Linked DNA regions of Homo sapiens: regions 1, 2 and 4 are each linked to region 3. The links come from fine-mapping of genetic effects on gene expression. A gene starts in region 3. Each other region holds a variant in brackets. All regions are shown on one strand. Distances are from middle to middle.

What was found. PIP is the estimated chance that this variant, and not a neighbour inherited with it, causes the effect.
Region 1: its variant is fine-mapped to the expression of PDGFD in whole blood (TOPMed, PIP 0.98).
Region 2: its variant is fine-mapped to the expression of PDGFD in skeletal muscle (FUSION, PIP 0.95).
Region 4: its variant is fine-mapped to the expression of PDGFD in fibroblasts (GTEx, PIP 0.95).

Annotation. Positions count from the first base shown.
Region 1 is chr11:103,957,377-103,959,994 of GRCh38, reverse strand. The region is part of intron 3 of PDGFD (platelet derived growth factor D); the gene reads left to right. Among named protein-coding and RNA genes, the nearest start is that of PDGFDDN, 52 kb to the right of the region's middle. The variant T/C (reference allele first, on the strand shown) is at 1,391.
Region 2 is chr11:104,585,278-104,587,895 of GRCh38, reverse strand. The region is part of intron 1 of LINC02552 (long intergenic non-protein coding RNA 2552); the gene reads left to right. Among named protein-coding and RNA genes, the nearest start is that of LINC02552, 23 kb to the left of the region's middle. The variant T/ATT (reference allele first, on the strand shown) is at 1,330.
Region 3 is chr11:104,162,882-104,165,499 of GRCh38, reverse strand. PDGFD (platelet derived growth factor D) reads left to right here and starts at 1,353. Exons shown (of 7, transcript NM_025208.5): 1 at 1,353-1,696. The coding sequence starts at 1,573.
Region 4 is chr11:104,104,593-104,107,210 of GRCh38, reverse strand. All of the region lies in intron 1 of PDGFD (platelet derived growth factor D), which reads left to right. Among named protein-coding and RNA genes, the nearest start is that of PDGFD, 58 kb to the left of the region's middle. The variant C/T (reference allele first, on the strand shown) is at 992.

The sequences.
Region 1 (2,618 bases), 210 kb after region 3:
GTAAAAGATGTTCCTGTTAACTGATGATAACCAAAAGTAAAAAGGAATTTTTAATGCCCATACGCATGAACTAATAGAAATTAAATTGCAGGATCTCTCATTTAATTACCATTTATCCTATTCCAAAATGATCCTCCCAGCCTGGAGGAGAAGACTTCAAGTTGTTTACTTGGAGGGATGAAGTCCTATGGACTGAGTCAGGCAGTTGCCCCCAGGAGGTCTCTTTCACTGATGTTAACCATGGTGTTTGGCAACAGTATTTTTTCTCTTTGTAAAGTTTTATCAGCTCTGTCATAAATTCTTAGGAATTTATGAAAACCTGTACTTAGCACAGTCTGAAACTCACGACCTGTGTGCTTGGCACTCAGTTCCAACAAGTTCACCTAATGGGCCCAGATAGCAAGCCTGCTTTGGAGATCCAAAATGTGCCAGCTGCCTTAGTTAGTTGCTAGTTGAGTGGGGAGTGGAAAGAGGAAGTACAAAGTCAAGAATATACGAATCTCCCCTTTTGTGAGAAGAGTAATTTGCAAGGGTATGAGTCCTATGCTTTTGTTTCAGACTTTACATTAACCATCTCTCTAGTTTAACCACATAAATGACTCTGGAAATCCCCTTAGAAAGAAGTCAGGTCAAGAAAAAGGTACTTTGAATTACTTGTTTTCATTTACATAGCTGTATAGTAGTAACATGACTCTTAAATATTTTATATTCAGTATGGCCCATAGTGCCAAATGATAATTATGATGGGTGGCAGCTCTGATGAATGAACACTGGTCCAGTGTAAGGATAAGGATGAATGTGTAGAGGGAAAAGGTGTCACAACGCAAAGTCACCTCACTAGGAAATACCCATATTTTTAAAAAGAATGGACAGCTTTTTTAATACTTTACAACTGACACTCCTGATTCTCTTAGAAAATGTTCCCGTTTACATTATAATCCCATCACTTGCTGAGTAACATTTCATGAGTGCTCTTTTTCATGGAACCGTACCAGCTGTGTTGACTGTGGCTTTGGCTTTTAGACTTCAAATGGTATTTTCTCCCTAAAGTCAGATCTTAGGAGTTTTAATTAGTAATGGAATAATTTGAGTTTTTAGAGATAATGATTTTAGCTAAGGGATTTTGGTGACATGGCCTTAATCTTCATACTGTTTGTAATTCCCATTTTCTCTAATTACTGGTTTTAATAATGTAACTAGCTTTTGGCCACCATGAAGAAAATCTATTTATATAACGTCAGTCAAGTACAGAGAAATTTAGCAGTTATTGGGAGTGTGAATTTCAGCACAGAGGCGTGAAATGGTTTGTTGAATTCTGAGCATGAAACAGTATTTCCTCTCTTAACCACAATAATAAAAACAAACCAAACAAACAAAAAAGAGTGCTTAC[T/C]ATGTACCAGGCACTGTGCTTGCAAGAAAATGAAAATATGAATCAGGTCAGTATTTCTTCATTTCAAACTTGTAATTTTCCTAAGGTGCAGGAATAATTTCCTAAGTCATTCATTTTAGCTTGGTATAAACAATCTTTAAGATTAGCTTAGCAATATCAAAAGTACAATCTTTAATAAATTTCAGACCACTGGTGAATTGAATCAGATGTTCTCTTTGAAATGCATTTAAGGAATTTATGAAAACCTGAACTTAGCACAAATCAAGAAGATTCGTTTATTTTATAAAAAGGATTATTTATAAAAGAAAAGAGGAATTATTCAACAAAGATGAAAGAGTACAGAGACTCAGCCACGGTTTCAGGTATCTGTGGCACTTCCTTAATAATAGGGCTTGCATCCTGTCTTTCTGCTTCCTCATCTTTTAAAGCTACTGTAGAAATGATGAATGAGATAATTTATGGAAAGTATTTCATATAGTCACCGGCATAAAATCTGTGCTCCATAAGTGGCAGGCGTTACTGCAAAATAATTAATCACAGAGTTTTTTTTTTTAATGCTAAACAACTAGTCACAAAATTTAAATCTGAACCTAGCTCTTCGGCAACAGATTGTAGAAATACTGTAGTATTTCTCTAGGTGTAAATTAAATGTTCACTTACCAAACACCATGGAGGTTGGTGAACCAACACCATACACCAAACACCATGGTATGACCAAACACCATGGAAGCTATTAACAAAGTAGTATTTTGCAATTTGCAACTTTCTGTGCAGCCCCTTGGTATGCGGCACCCCTCTCTCTATCTGCAAACACGCTGATCCTCTCTAGTTCTTGAATATCATTCTCATGACCCCTTTTAAATCAATGACCCCCTTCTCTTCTCAGCTTGCTGGACTGGGATTTGCTCTAATCTTTACTTACTATATCGAGAACAAATTCCCAAACTAGCCAGTTTTCCCAGCACCATTTATTAAATAGGGAATCCTTTCACCATTGCTTGTTTTTCTCAGGTTTGTCAAAGATCAGATAGTTGTAGATATGCGGCATTATTTCTGAGGGCTCTGTTCTGTTCCATTGATCTATATCTCTGTTTTGGTACCTGTACCATGCTGCTTTGGTTACTGTAGCCTTGTAGTATAGTTTGAAGTCAGGTAGCGTGATGCCTCCAGCTTTGTTCTTTTGGCTTAGGATTGACTTGGCGATGCGGGCTCTTTTTTGATTCCACAT
Region 2 (2,618 bases), 420 kb before region 3:
TACTGAATTTTGTGCTACCATTTTTGTGTACATGATTTCTATACATATTTTCAACTCCACAACATATTGTTTAAGCAGTGAATATTCTTATCTTTTTACCTGCTTAATAATATCTTTTCATGTCTTTTAATGCGTCCTTCCCTGGATTAATCTCTCTGATTTTTGTTTATTTATAAGTGCCTTTTTTTATTTTTGAAGAAAATTTCATCATGAATAAGATTCTAAAATGAGTTCCTTTATTGCGATTTTCATTTTTGTTGTTGTTTTTTGAGATGGAGTCTCGCACTGTCCCCCGGGCTGGAGTGCAGTGGCGTGATCTCGGCTCACTGCAACCTCCGCCTCCCAGGTTCAAGCAATTCTCCTGCCTCAGTCTGCCGAGTAGCTGGGATTACAGGCGCCAGCCACTGCGCCCAGTTAATTTTTTGTATTTTTAGTAGAGATGGGGTTTCACTATGATGGCCAGGCTGGTCTCAAACTCCTGAGCTCATCAGCCGCCCGCCTCAGCCTCCCGAAGTGCTGGGATTACAGGCATGAGCCATCAAGCCCAGCCTGGCATTTTCAATTTTTTTTATATTCTACTTTCCACTGTTTCTGAAAGTTCGTTGGCAGTCTATCTCACTCTTGAAGGAAACATGAGTTTTATACAGTTGCTTTTCAAATTTTCCCTTGTTTTCAAATTCTTAACTACACCAATAATATGTGTGTGTGTTCTTTTATTTCTATTGGGGTATTTTGAAAGCTGTTTGAAGGAGAGGCTTTCTGGGTTTTTAAAAATTATTTTTAATTTTTTAAAGCTGTCTCAAAATGATTGCCCTTCATTCTCTTTTAATATTACTGTTTTTCTCTTTTGTCTTTCCTCTCGAGTTCTAATCACACAAAGTTCAGAACTTTTCATCATGTTGTATTTGACATCTCATGATATTTTCTGTATTTTAAAATTTTCTGTATTCTTTGTGTTTCAACCTCGGTATTTCTTGCTGAACTGTCTTTTAGCTCACTAACATTTGGTTCTGTGATACCTAAACCACTACTAAAACTTATATTACTTTCTTAATATATATTTTTCTTCTAACATTTGCATTTATTTAACAGATTGTGGTTCATCTTTTTCTCTACTTTGCATTCACCTTTTTCGCTACTTTGTAAACGCATTAATTATACTGATATTCAAGTTTTATGTCTGACAACAGAATCTCCTCTGGGTGTTTTACTATTGCTTTTCCTTTTCCTTTATTTTTTCTTCTTTTTGGGAGCTTTTTTGTCCTATTTCCTGCCATGACCAATTATTTTTTAAGCTGGATTTTGTAAATTAAATATATATATATATAT[T/ATT]CAATTTATATATATAAGTTAAATTATATATATATATTCAATTTATATATATAAATTAAATTTTATTTTATCTATATCTATATCTATATCTAATCTTTATATATATATATACACACACACACACACACACACACACACACACGTGATATTATCTTCTTCCAAAGAGAATTTAATGTAATTCCAGAAAGCTGCTAGAGTCTGGCCAGATCATCTTCATATAGCCTATTGTGCAGTTCAGGTTTAGTGATTCCTGCTCTAATTCTACTCTGCCTTTACTTTTAAACGTGACCCTTATTTTTTATGATATTGCTCTTATTGTTAAGATTAGCTCTTTAAGATCCTCAACTGAGGTTTTTTTCCTGAGGCCCTTCTTTTTTTGTGGGATGGGGCCTCTAAAATTGCTTTCCCAGCACTGTGAACTGGACAAATCCTTTGCCTGTACTTCACAGTGCCTCACGCCAAGCGTGTGCATTTTACAAGTTGGCAAATGCTCCAAGGAAAATTGCATGTAATATTTGATGCTACTCCTCTGAATGTCCTCTCCCCCGTACCTTTTTCCCTTAAATCGTGGTTGCCCCAGTTCCTGAAGTCTGATTTTGTTCTCTCTATCTAATGATATTGGTCACAACTCAAGGCTATTACTTTCTCTTCAGGCTCCATCATTATCACTGAGAAACTGTAAATAAATAGGGAGAAATTATAGAGGCAAATTTGGGGTTGAGCTCAATGCAATTTCCTCTTCTATAGGTCTAGTCCCCACAATTCTTGGCTGTCGTGATTGTTTTCTGTGGGATCCAAATAGCTGCTTTGCTTTGTTTCTGTTTTCTATCCAGGTTTTACACTTACTTTCTCCAAGGATTTCTTTGATACATCTACTCCCTCATAGATGGAAACAAAACTTCCAACTCAGATTTTAAAGACATAAACTGTAATAGCATTTGCTTCCAATTTAATATCTTACTACTCTTGATCTATTTGCTCATTGTGTGTCTTGTTATCAAAATGCCAAAATGCAGAGATATTGTGAGAAATATTAAAATGCTCACATTTTGTCCTCTTGTTCTAATGACATACTAGAGCAATTTTTTCTTATTGGATGACCTCTGAAGAGAGTGGCTGAGCTATTATTGCCCAATGAAGAAAGGTTAGAAGGAAAAGCCACAAGCAAAACTGTAGTAACTGGAGGAAAATTGCTAGTGTAATTCCTAGTTTGACTGTGATATGAAAAGGGGAGCCTTTATATCCACCTGTGCAGGCATAAGATTCATTCTAGAGCCCATTCTCACAGC
Region 3 (2,618 bases):
AAATTGAGAAATCATATAAATTTGGATTTGGATTCAGCTACAAACAAAACAATATGCTAAACATTTTTTCACATCATTCTCACCACAACCATACAAATTAACAATTGCTACTCTTGCAAATAAATAAACTGAGTTTCGAAAGATCAGATGATTTGCTCAAGGGGACAAAGCCAGTGAGCAGCGAGTCTGGACTCATTCCTTTTCCAAATACAGTCCCCTCCCATGGGCAGACAGACACACGATGTAAACCAGAGGCAGCCCCTTTCAACTGCTGAGCTTCCAGACGCAGAGTAGGGAGAATCCCAAAAGCCTCAACGACCCATGCCTCTTCCTATGGACTGTGAAGGCAAGTGAGCACAGTGTTCTGCAACTTCTTCCCCTTGCTCAGTCTGTTCCTGCTCAACCCCACTCTGTCCTGTTGCCCTTTCCTGTGGAAGGGCTGGAGCTAGTGCATATAAAAACGCTCGTGAAGACTTCTTGCCCTTATTGTACACTGCACCACATGGCCCATCACGTCTACAGCCCTGTGTGATAGGTGGTTCATCTTGCTGCACCCTAGAAAAGGCATTTTGGTGTCCAATACTCTCTGGTACCAGGATGCCCTGACTCATCCTGGAGTTCGCGAAAAGTGAAAGCTACGCCATCCCTCCATCAGTCTCGACCTTTTCTCGGGCATTTTTGATAGATGGAGGGACTCAAGAGTAGCTTTCTCTGGGTGATATACTTTTATTTTTATTTTATTCCCTGAAAAGGTACCCTTGACTCACCCAAAGGTCACACTGATGGGAGCTCAAAGAAAAGCTCGGAATTAAGCTCCTTTGTGATTGTATTTTTTCACTATAAACAGTGAAATTTTAACTAAGTAGAGTCTCATTTTGGTTATTGTAAAATAAACACTCCCAACTCCAGTCCCTGTCCCCACATCCCACCACCATCAAGGCGGAGAGCTGTGGCTTGTGGGTGGATGTGCCAGTCACCTCTGAAGAAGTGCTGGGATTCTACCCTCTCCCACTTCCTCCTGGCGAGTTTGTTTCCTGAGCCCTTACAGGTCCAACCAGGAGGGTAAAGCCCAGGGCGGTGGGAAGAGTCCCGGCCGGCGATTAAACTGGGCATGCTCAGTGGCAGAGCAGGTTTAGGCCCGGCCTGGGAAACTGGGGAGCTGAGGTGCTCGCGCCGCCGCTCTGAGCCCGAGTGCGCGCCTCTCAGGGGCCGCGGCCGGGGCTGGAGAACGCTGCTGCTCCGCTCGCCTGCCCCGCTAGATTCGGCGCTGCCCGCCCCCTGCAGCCTGTGCTGCAGCTGCCGGCCACCGGAGGGGGCGAACAAACAAACGTCAACCTGTTGTTTGTCCCGTCACCATTTATCAGCTCAGCACCACAAGGAAGTGCGGCACCCACACGCGCTCGGAAAGTTCAGCATGCAGGAAGTTTGGGGAGAGCTCGGCGATTAGCACAGCGACCCGGGCCAGCGCAGGGCGAGCGCAGGCGGCGAGAGCGCAGGGCGGCGCGGCGTCGGTCCCGGGAGCAGAACCCGGCTTTTTCTTGGAGCGACGCTGTCTCTAGTCGCTGATCCCAAATGCACCGGCTCATCTTTGTCTACACTCTAATCTGCGCAAACTTTTGCAGCTGTCGGGACACTTCTGCAACCCCGCAGAGCGCATCCATCAAAGCTTTGCGCAACGCCAACCTCAGGCGAGATGGTAAGAGACTCATTTTATTTTTTAACTGAAAAAAAAATCATGTTTGCTATTGTTATTGTTCTTTCTATGTTTTTCCCCTTTCTTTTTGAATCTTGAATGTGAACTCGGGCTGAATGCATTGTTTGGGGAGGGAGGTCTCCTGCCTGTATCCAGTCCTGAGAGAGCTCCATTTCCGGAATGGGACTGAGAGGTGTGGGACGCGTGCTGATGGGGATAGGATAAGCCAGGTGGCTCACCTTGCTGCACCCTAGAGAAGTCATTTTGGTGTCCAAGCCTCTGGTACCAGGATGCGGTGCCTCATCCCGGAGTTGGCGAAAGTTGCAAGCTGCGCCGCCCCTTGGTCAGACTCAACCTTTCTTAGGCAATTTTGATAGGTGGAAGGAGTCAAGAGTAGCTTTCCCTGGGTGATAGACGTTTATTTAAATTTTATTTATTTATTTATTTATTTTTACGAGTGAGAGGAGAAATCGTGCGTTTCAATCTAGCAGTTATATCTGGAACAGTGACAATTTACTATTTATTTTCGGGAAATGGCAGTGTGCAGCCTATTGCCCTTTAGGTCCCCTAAGTGACTTTCCTATTGAAGTTCACCCTGACTCAGAAGCTCAGAGTGTAGGAGACCAAGGCTTCTGGGGTTTCATCAGTACCACAGGGGCACCAGGCTTCTGCTGCTAGTTTCCTTGCAGAAGCGGCTTCCAATTATCTACAAGGAGCACAGCTCCTGAAACAGCTGTCCTAAGCAAGGTCCCAAGCCAGCTTGTTTGTTTTCCTTTACTCTAGAGGACACCTGGGTCACTGGTTCCAGAGACCCTAAGCTGAGTTTATTTACTTTCTGGGGCCTCCACCTAAAACTGTAGCTGATGTTCCCAGCAAATTTTAGCTGTTCTGCCATGTACCTGAACTGACCCATAGGCTTTTGGAT
Region 4 (2,618 bases), 58 kb after region 3:
GTGATTCGGTCTCTTTGGGGATAATCTCCCTTCTGATGAACTCAAACTCAATTGATTAGGGACTTTAATTACATCACAATGTTTTTTAACCTTTGTCACATTTTATATTCTAATCATGGAAGTGGTCTCATCTTCAGAGTCCTGCCTACATTCAGAAGAGGGCATTGGCCGGGCGTGGTAGCTCACGCCTCTAATCCCAGCACTTTGGGAGCCTGAGGCAGAAGGATCACTTGAGGTCAGGAGTTTAAGACCAGCCTGGGCAACATGGTGAAACCCCCATCTCTACTAAAAACACAAAAATTAGCCAGGCGTGGTGGCACACACCTGTAGTCCCAGCTACTTGCGAGGCTAAGGTGGGCAAATTGCTTGAACTCGGGAAGCAGAGGTTGCAATGAGCCGAGATCATGCCACGGCACTCCAACCTGGGCAACAGAGTGAGATTCTGACTTGAAAAAAAAAAAAAAGGCATCATACAAAGGCGTGGGTCACTGAGGATCATATGGAATTCTGGCCACCGTAATTTCTAATGAGGAGGACTTGCTTCATCTCTACTGCTAGTCTTCAAGTTTTCTAAAGGCCTGGAATTAATAGTCTTTGTTTAGCTTCCTGTATACAACAAAGTTCCTTGCACAGAATGGGCAATCTGTGTTTTCTGAATAATTGAATGAATGTGGACTTTTTGTCTTTGTGCGTCAGTTCCAGCATCTCACCCAAGATGGTTTTGGCATAGGATCAGTGTTAATATCAATGATGCCTATTTTTAGAAACACAAACAGAAGTTTTTGCTATCACTGGAAGTTATGCTGATGCACAGGTAGTAATCTTGTCTCTGAAAAAATTAACTATGTCTTATGGTATTAGTTTGGCTATACTTCTTTGTGGTTGTTATCATTCCTCAGAGCTAAAAAAATGTGAACATATGCTATCAATTAGTGGGTTCATGAGGAATTTTGCAAACAAATACTGCCAGAGTGCTGAAAATTGGAATTAC[C/T]TCATCTTGTTTACAACTATCGTGCGTGGAGGTTTGAGATTACATAGTTTATTAATTATGGTTAGAATTCTTTTAAGTCATCTACCAATGATTTACTCTGCTCCTCAGTTCAGAAATATAAGTTTCTAATATATGTATTACCTAAACTCCCTGTGGTGCTGGTTTAATTTTTTTAAATGAAGATTTAACAATACTTCTAAAGTAACTCTTTTGTAAACACTATGCTTATTTGGACAACTACACATGCCATTCTGGATTTCTTTGTAGACCTGTCTCAAATGCAAGTGTTTTTTCTTCATAATTCATGATAATACTAATATCTACTTATATATAACACTTAGAAGTTTACTTTTCTTTTGGAGAAGTATGTAGTCTTTTCCAGCAAAACTTTCAAAAAAAGTTTTCCAGCAAAACTTTCAAAAATTTCCAGGAATTATTTTACATGGCAGTTTTTGTACTTCTTCCATTTTTATTGTCAGTTTCCTTTATCTCCATGAGACATTATTTTCCTACTGTCATTTTGGAAATTATGGCTTTCACAGCTGAATTATATGAGCCATCACCTCTATACAGAATATTACTAACTCCACACCGAGAAAAATGTCACGTAAAGCTGAATAAGCGTTTGGAAAATATGAAAGCATATACAACCAGGTGGTTTAAATAATTGGAGATACAAATATCCTTTTTTCTTTTAGTCTTATGTGAGTTAGATAAATAACTGACCAAATGCTTTTTCTTACCCATGTAAACATGGTTTATTTTTTTTTCTCCATAGTTTGCTCTCAACTTTAATGCCTTCATCTAAGTGAGGTGACTTTATCTAGCAGGCATTTTATTTGTGCCTGCGACTTGGTTAGTTCATGTAATTTGAGAACACTAGTTGTTAACAAAACATGATACAATGAACTGTGTGTACTATAATAAAGACTGGAATTTTGGGGCATAATTTTAGCTCTTCCCTCCTTCTTGCTCAGCTACAAATGGAGCAGAAGATTCCAATCAGAGACCTGAGGTCAAAACCATACCAGCTGTTACCTCTGTGTGATCCTGGGCAAGTTACTGTCTGGGTGATCTTCATCTGTCTCCTCATTCTGTGAAATGATAATCACGGATCCCCCATTAATGGGGTTACTTATATGAGTAATGTCTGTAAAATGCTTAACACAGTGGCACATACGTTTCACATAAATGTTACCTATTTGCATTTCATTTCATCTTTTATGATGCTGGTATACATGGTGAGCAACAAGAACAAAGTCCTTATTGGTGAAAAATAAGAGTTCTCCTATGTAGCGTTCCCATAGATATATGTAAATTTGCATATGGTATCAGTGTTTGAGGTAACAAACAGCTGTTTCACAAGGTAGTTGTGAATATTACCACCTGTTTCTGGTGATAGGTAGTATTCAGAGACTTAGAATCTTCTTCAGAGAAGTTTCTGTGTACAATCATGAATCACTCAACAATGGGGATACATTGTCAGAAATATAGGCATTTTCTTGGTGAGAATATTAGGTGGTTTCGTCATTGTGTGAACATAATAGAATTTACTCACACAAACTTAGATGGTGCAGCCTACTACATGCCTAAGCTATAGATGGTTTGTAGCTTTGGTCCTAGGCTA